2 linked regions of the Homo sapiens genome follow. The protein of the gene in region 2 purifies or fractionates together with the protein of the main gene of each other region. This does not show direct contact. Each region holds a gene or a part of one and is shown on either strand. Other genes may lie near its edges.

Region 1 (4,300 bases), on a different chromosome or scaffold from region 2:
TTTTTATGTCTTTTAGGTACCAGGGTATGATGCAAGGAGCTGGGCTTTAGTTATAAACACTTGAATCCAAGTCCAAATTGCCAAATTTGCCGTTTCACTTTAGGCAAATATTTCACCTCTCTGTGCCTCAAATTTTCTAACCTGTAAAGTTGGAATAATATCTACTTCACAGGGCTATTTAGGCCAAAAATTACACAGTTAAACTCTCAGCATCATGCCTGGTTCATAGTAGACACACCATAAATTTTAATTCCTTTTCACTTCTTCCCATAAGGCAAACAATTACAGCTTTACAACATTGCCTTAGAGCCCAACCATGACTAGAATGTGCAAAATTAATTTCATTTTTAAATCTCAAATCCCACAAAATGAGTTTACTTAAAATGAAACTCATTTATATTTACCACAGAAATCTAAATTTCTTTTTTTTTTTTTTTTTTTTTTGAGACAGAGTCTTACTCTGTCACCCAGGCTGGAGTGCAGTGGCATGATCTCGGCTTACTGCAACCTCTGCCTCCCGGGTTAAAGCAATTCTCCTCCCTCAGCCTCCCGAGTAGTTAGCGTAACAGGCTTGCACCACCATGCCCAGTTAATTTTTGTACTTTTAGTAAAGACTGGGTTTCACCATGTTGGCCAGGCTGGTCCCGAACTTCTGACCTCAAGTGATCTGCCCACCTCGGCCTCCCAAAGTGCTGGGATTACAGGTGTGAGCCACCGCGCCTGGCCAATTCTTGATAACACCATAAATTTAAGTTCCTTTTCACTTTTTCCCACAAGATAAATTACAGCTTTACAACATTTTCTCAGAGCCCAACCATGACTAGATTCTACAAAATTAATTTCACTTTTAAACCTCAAATTCCACAAAAATGAGTTTAAAGGAAACTCATTTATATTTACCCCGGAAATCTAAACTCTTGATAATACCACACATTTTAGTTTCTTCTCACTTCTTCCCACAAGATAAATAATTTCAGCTTTACAACATTTTCTCAGAGCCCAACCATGACTACACTGTGCAAAATGAATTAATTTCACTTTTAAATCTCAAATCCCGTAAAAATGAGTTTACTTAAAATGAAACTCACTTGCATTTACCACAGAAATTTAAACTCTTAATTACACCATATACCTTAATTCCTTTTCACTTCTTTCCATAAGATAAATCACAACTTTACAACATTTTCTGAGCCCAACCATGACTAGATTGTGCGAAATTAATTAATTTCACTTTTAAATCTCAAATCCCATAAAAATGAGTTTACTTAAAATGAAACTCACTTGTATTTACCACAGAAATTTAAACTATTCATTACACCATACACTTTAGTTCCTTTTCACTTCGTCCCACAAGATTAATTACAGCTTTACAACATTTTCTCAGAGCCCAAGGCTAGATTGTGCAAAATTAATTAATTTCACTTTCAAATCTCAAATCTCGTAAAATGAGTTTACTTAAAATGAAACTCACTTATATTTACCACAGAAATCTAAACTCTTGATAACATAAGAACAAGAGGCCGTCTGATTTTCTAAAAGACTTTTTTTAGACATTAAAGACATTTTCAAAAGTCGTAAATATTCGCTCCGGAGGCGCAAGGCTTTCACCTGCCATTAATTCATCAGATAAGGCACAGCTCACAATGAGGCGCCACTCCCACCGGGACCACTTTGAGGAACACACAGCAAAACGCTCTGTTTGTTTTAAGAACAATCACTTTCTAAACCTTCCTGCGGGACTCTCAAAGGCAGCCCTTCCTTTGCCGCCAGAACCGCATCCCATCGCCCAGCACTTGCCGCAGGCCGGACAAGTGAGGCCCAAAAGGGCACCCAGCCCACGCCCCGCTTTAGAAAACACCGCGCGGCAAAGCTGCTTGGAAAATCGCTATCTTTTAGTCAACCTGAAGCCAGTTTGCCGCACTCGGGGAGAGCCGGGGAGAGGAGGGAGGGACGCGATCCGCCACCAACCAAATCAGGGCCTTTCCTGTTAACGACCACGCGGCAAGGGGGCCGGGCCCTCGCACGCCTCGACGGCCTCCCCCACTCCAAAGGGACTCCGATTTCGCAGGATCTCCCGCCTCCCGCCTCTGCTCCCAACACCCTACGTTTTTCTCTTCCTCCTCATTTACGTATTTACAATAAAACAGCGAAGCTGCACAGTCTGTCTCTAAATCAAACGCGGTTACCATCAAAGCCTCAGACTCTATGTCTCAACCGCAAAAGGTCTGACAGGAAATCAACTCGGGAGTTTGTCAATTCTTTAAACTCAAAGCTCTGTTAACGAAATCTGGATCCTTCCTCGCTCCCCACCTGCCTCCCCTGACAGGAGAATGACTGTAAAAGGATCCTGTCGTCCCCGAAAGTCAGCACCAAGCACTTCACAAATTGTCAAATCTCAAAAGCTTACACGCGCGGGCACTCCGGAAAGGCTGTGGGGACCACCCAAAGCACCCCCCTCCACACCGCGGCTGAAATTGGAGGCTGCGAAGTCAAGACTCGCTCTTCCCCGCAAAGCAAACCCTCTCTCCTCAGGAGAGCCCCGGCCCCTAAGCCAAATCGTGTATTCCCGTGACGGAAAGTTCAAGGTGAGGAAAAAGTACGACTGGACAGACCTATTTTAGTGACAGAGCCTGTCACGCCGGCCTCCGGAGGTCGCGGTAAAACTGCTCGCAGTAGTCCTGCCTCTCCGATGGGCGACAGCTGTGACCGTTAGGCCACTCGACGCTTCGGAAAGGTCCTGGCACCGGAAACCGGGCCTGGTCACGCGCACGCGAGACCAGTGATGCCCTGACCCCTGAGTGGATCAGAGAGCTCCCGCGACGCCGAATTCCCACACTCGCGGTTGGGGGGGGGGGGGGGGGGGGGGGGGGCGGGACTACCCGCTGACCAATCGGAGTCTGGCCACTGACAGGCGTCACCGTTGATCGGCCAATCCGCGGGTGCTCTCCCAGTCCTTGGGTGAGGGCGGGAATTTGCTAAGGAGATGGCTGTGGGGCGGGGCCGAGGGCGGGAATTTGCTGAGGAGATAGCTGTGGGGCGGGGCCGAGGGCGGGAATTTGCTGAGGAGATGGCTGTGGGGCGGGGCCTCTTACCTCAGGTTTTCCTTCGCAAGACCCGCAGGATTGAAAATGGACGTTAGGCCTTTCAGAGACTCGCGCGCTGAGTGGTTTCTGCGGCTGCGCAGGAGGCTGGCGCGCATGCGCAACCCTTCTAGTGGCGTTGTAGTTAGGGACGTGGTGTCCCCCCTTCGTTGTTGGGGTGTCCGAAGCTTTTTTTTTTTTTTAATGTGATCCCGCCCCTCCCCCGCGCTCTGTGACGCACCAGAGACGTCGTCGTAAACTGGGTTTCCTGGACGCACGCCAGTGATTGACTTGGAATGAGGAGAGGGGCGGGGCCTTAGCAGTTGCCCTGAGCCAGGTCTGGTAGGAAGGGCGAGGGGGGCCAGGGTGGGGGGCGGGCAAGATATTTCCAGTCTCCAGCACCCACAAGTTGGACTGGGGAACTAACGCAGACCTTGAAGGCAGATTTACTGGATTGGACCCCCAGCTCCAACACAGTCCTCCTATGGCCTTAGGCAAGCCAAGTAACCGCTTTGTGCTTCGGTTTCCCCATCTGTAAAATGGGTATAATATGGGGACTACATGAGTTAATGTATGCAAAGCACTTAGAACAGTACCTGGCATAGAATTTTGCTATTGTAATAAAGGCTATGTGACATCATCTAGTGGCATATAGTCTTACATACTTATATCGAGGCTGCTCATCTTGGGAAGGAGACACAGTCTGAGTAATTATCAGAAGCAAAGCAGGCAGATATTTCAAAGTAAAGCTATACATCTTTTCTTGGCCCAGAGAGGAGCTACAAAGAAAGTATACTGGACGTTGGAAATGTATCATTTTTCCTCTCAAATACGAAGCTAGATTAAAGCCCATTATAGATATAGTATATGTTTTTTTTTTGTTTTTGTTTTTGTTTGAGACGGAGTTTTGCTCTTGTTGCCCAGGCTGGAGTGTAGCGGTGTGATCTCGGCTCACTGCAACCTCTGCCTCCTGGGTTCAAGCGATTCTCCTGCCTCAGCCTCCAGAGTAGCTGGGATTACAGGCGTCTGCCACCATGCCCAGCTAATTTTTGTATTTTTAGTAGAGACGGGTTTCACCATGTTGGACAGGCTGGTCTATGTTCTTTTTGCTCCTACTTTTGCCATAACAGACCCTGCCCTTATGTCCTGTTGCCTGTAAAACACTGTTGCGAAGCCCCAAGAAATCAATTACGTAACAGTGAAGAGAGAAACCGGTTGTT
Region 2 (3,500 bases):
GAGGCTGAGGAGGGCGGATCACAAGGTCAGGAGATCGAGACCATCCTGGCCAACATAGTGAAACCCCGTCTCTACTAAAAATACAAAAAAATTAGCCAGGTGTGGTGGCGGGCGCCTGTAGTCCCAGCTACTCAGCAAGCTGAGGCGGGAGAATGGCGTGAACCCAGGAGGTGGAGCTTGCAGTGAGCCGAGATCACGCCACTGCACTCCAGCCTGGGCAACAGTGAGACTCCTCAAAAAAAAAAAAAAAAAAATAATAATAATAATAATTTGAAAACTCTGTATTGAAAAAAAATGAAAGGCCATGATGGTTTAGATACAAATGTGTTTTTTAATTTTTATTATAAGGTCTTGCTTTGTCACCCAGGCTGGAGTTCAGTGGCATGATCATAGCTCACTGCTGTCTCAAAATTCAGGGCTCAAGCAATCTTCCACCTCAGCCTCATGAGTAGCTGGTATTTTAAGTGTGAGCCACCATGCCCAGCCTCAATTGTGTTTTCAAAGTGACCCCTCAGTATATATAAGCCAAATAGAAGAGAAGCTAAAATTCTTCGGAACCACTGATTTTATTTAACTAATCCACTCTGTTGTATTCATCTGTATGGTTGGGAAAAACAACAAACTCTACACCCAGATAAAATTTCAAGTGAAAAAGGGGAAACTTCTCTTTCTTTATAAAATATGTTTACACAAGGTTTCAATAGCTCATCAAATTTACAGTCGATGATATCTTAACCTGCCTGACACAAAGCACCAGCCAGGAAAGGCCTGACCACCTACATGTCAATGATGTTATGGCTGCCTCAGGTGTCCCAGGGCACTCAAAGACAGAGGTTTCCTCCATCAGTTTGGGCGCAGTGCACTGCTCCTGACTGGAAAGCCCAGGGTGAAAGGTTTCTGCCAAAGAAGTAGAATCTGTAGAAATGGCACTTAGACAACAGAGTTAAGGCAAGCAGAGACCAAGAAGCATTTTGGAAGAAATCAGATTTGTTAGCTCACAATTATCCATGCATTAAATAAGAAGAGGTAAAAGGAAAAAAACAAATGAAGAAAAACAGATATGAAGCAAAGTTTGAATAGCATGCACTCCTTTTTATAATATTTCAGTGACTTCTAATTTCACTCAACAGTTGTAATTGTTATTATTCAATACATTTCCTTTGTGGAAAAAAATGGTGCCATTTATATTATTCTGAGTAAAAGCTGAGAAAAATCATTACTAGTTATCTGAGAGTAAGATTTAAAATCACAGAGGAGTGAAGAATTCTTACATATATATGCTAAAATTCCAAATTCTTAAATACCACTTAAAGATGAAAGATTCAAGAGTGTTCCTCCTAAATGTTTCCTGTATTTGGAATATAAATTATAAAAATCAGGCGAGTCATATTAAGCATTTTTTATACTTACAGAATTATCCCCATGATAAAGTCCTAGCATAATCATATTCTATTTTTGGTATGATATTACTAGTCTATCACATTCATTGATGTCTAATAGTAACTCTAAAGATTAAAACATTTTTATCATACTTCTTAGAAAAGCTACTAAGTAGCTATTATTAAAAACACTGGAAAAGTATTACTATAAATTATGTAACTTGTAATGGAATTTTGTTTGGAAAGAATCCTAGAGGAGAGCCATATACTGCAACAGAAAACATTTTCATGGTAACAGATTTTTACCATTAGAGTAGGGTAACTTGTATGTTGAGTTCATACCTAGAACAGTTGCATCAAGAAATTGTGCTTACACTTTCCTGTAAGTTTTCTTCTGCACACACCAAGGTACATTCCTAATTACGGTGTGTCATTACACTTGGGAAGGAGGTTAATAAATGTTAACCTGATACTGCATAAAGGAAAGCAGGAGACCACATAGAAAAAGTACTCAAGGACAATTCCAGAACTGAAATTTTGATCTCTGCCAGCTTCATACTCTAATTGGGTTGAGGGGCAGAGGGGTGGGGGCAAGAATTTATTTCATAATAAAAATTTGGGAAATGAGGCCAAAGAATCTGTATCTCTTTCATGTACAAAGCATCGCAAATGGACTCATTTCTCAATTATCATGGACGTCCTTTTTCAGTAATTACACCATGTAGAATAAGGGTGTCATACCTGGGCTGGATAGCTCCTCAGGAGAGTTTGCTTCTGAAGCACTGTCTGGAGGAACTCCATCTACTGGCTGTAAGGCTAAAGGAAAGAAGCAACACAACTTATAAAGTCATATTCACAAATAAAACAATTCCTTAACAGTTTAACTTAGTTATATAGTTCAGAAAGCAGTAAGCCTTGCTAGAAGCCATTTTACTATCTAGCTGTAAAACACTAAAATCCACTTAGACTCCCTTTTCTACATACAGCTAATCCTGAAATGGCAGCATCTTTCTGAATAAATTCACAGATTATGACATGCTCATCTTAGGATAATGGAGCTGTATAATTTTGACACTTTATTTGGTGATGTTTCAGATTTTTAAACGGCAGCAAAGTGAGACTAATCAAGATGTATTTAAAAAGCCTAAGTATTATTTAAAAAGCATAACTTACATACCCATATCTTTCCTACTGTCCATATTAAACAAAACACAATACAAATGTAATGTTAATGAAACAACCACATTACCAGTCACACGACTATTTTCATCACTTTGATGCGGGGGTATTTTGGAGGGTGGGGAAGGTGCTTTTCGCTTTGTCCTTCTCAAAGATGAATTCCCTGCAGACATGCTGCTGAGCTGCAGTGAACCTGCCCTCACTCTTCCTGCTTCACAGGGACTCTGGAAAACAAAATGACCAAATAAAATCCTACATTTAGAAATCAGTAGCAAACTTTAGGAAGACACTGAACTTTACGTCAAGCACAGGATATATCCAAATGGAACATAACAGTCATTCCTTAAAAACGTTTATGAAGCATCTGCCACACACAGAAGCTGGGCTATGGGATAGATATGTAAAGAAAAATAAAATACGGCCTTTCTCAAGAAACTTGGGCTAGAATGGGAAACTGCCACACAAACAACTAACTGTAATGTAGAGGACTCATAAGTAACAGAGTTAAAACCTAACTTTTAAAGAAAAATCTGGAGACATTAAAAGGAAGGGATGAAAAAGGGAACATTATTTGTATAGTAGTATTTGGCTTGATTAAATCTACCTCTTTACAGCTGCAGTGTTTCAGTGAGGAACACTGCAAAAATCTATATGTCTACCTGAGGCCAGGTCCTTCAAGGTCACCTACTGCAAAGAGCTACTGCTCACACTCCTAGCCCGTGACTGTCAGCAGACCCTAAGACATCCTCCTTCAGCAGGGGTCAGTGCCTCCTGACCAAATGCCATGTCATCTTTGCTCTTTGCCTTTACCAAGAATGAATGAATGAATGAATGAACGAATAAATAACTATTTAAAAGAGTTGTTCAGGTGGCTCACACCTGTAATTCCAAAGTGTGGCTCACACACTTTGGAAGGCCAAGGTGGGCAGACCACCTGAGGTA

What was found. The genes of interacting proteins can lie anywhere in the genome.
Region 1: the proteins of COBLL1 (region 2) and SCML1 purify together in Homo sapiens (affinity purification with mass spectrometry, with the first as the bait; one large-scale study listed by BioGRID). This does not show direct contact.

The regions. Positions count from the first base shown.
Region 1 is NC_000023.11:17,735,993-17,740,292, reverse strand, and holds the start of SCML1 (sex comb on midleg-like protein 1), read right to left. Parts: upstream 2,801-4,300; 5' UTR 2,613-2,800; exon of another isoform or gene 1-2,612. UniProt on the Homo sapiens protein: Putative Polycomb group (PcG) protein. PcG proteins act by forming multiprotein complexes, which are required to maintain the transcriptionally repressive state of homeotic genes throughout development.
Region 2 is NC_000002.12:164,702,324-164,705,823, forward strand, and holds part of COBLL1 (cordon-bleu protein-like 1), read right to left. Parts: intron 2,783-3,500; coding exon 2,629-2,782; intron 2,196-2,628; coding exon 2,121-2,195; intron 898-2,120; coding exon of another isoform or gene 781-897; intron 1-780.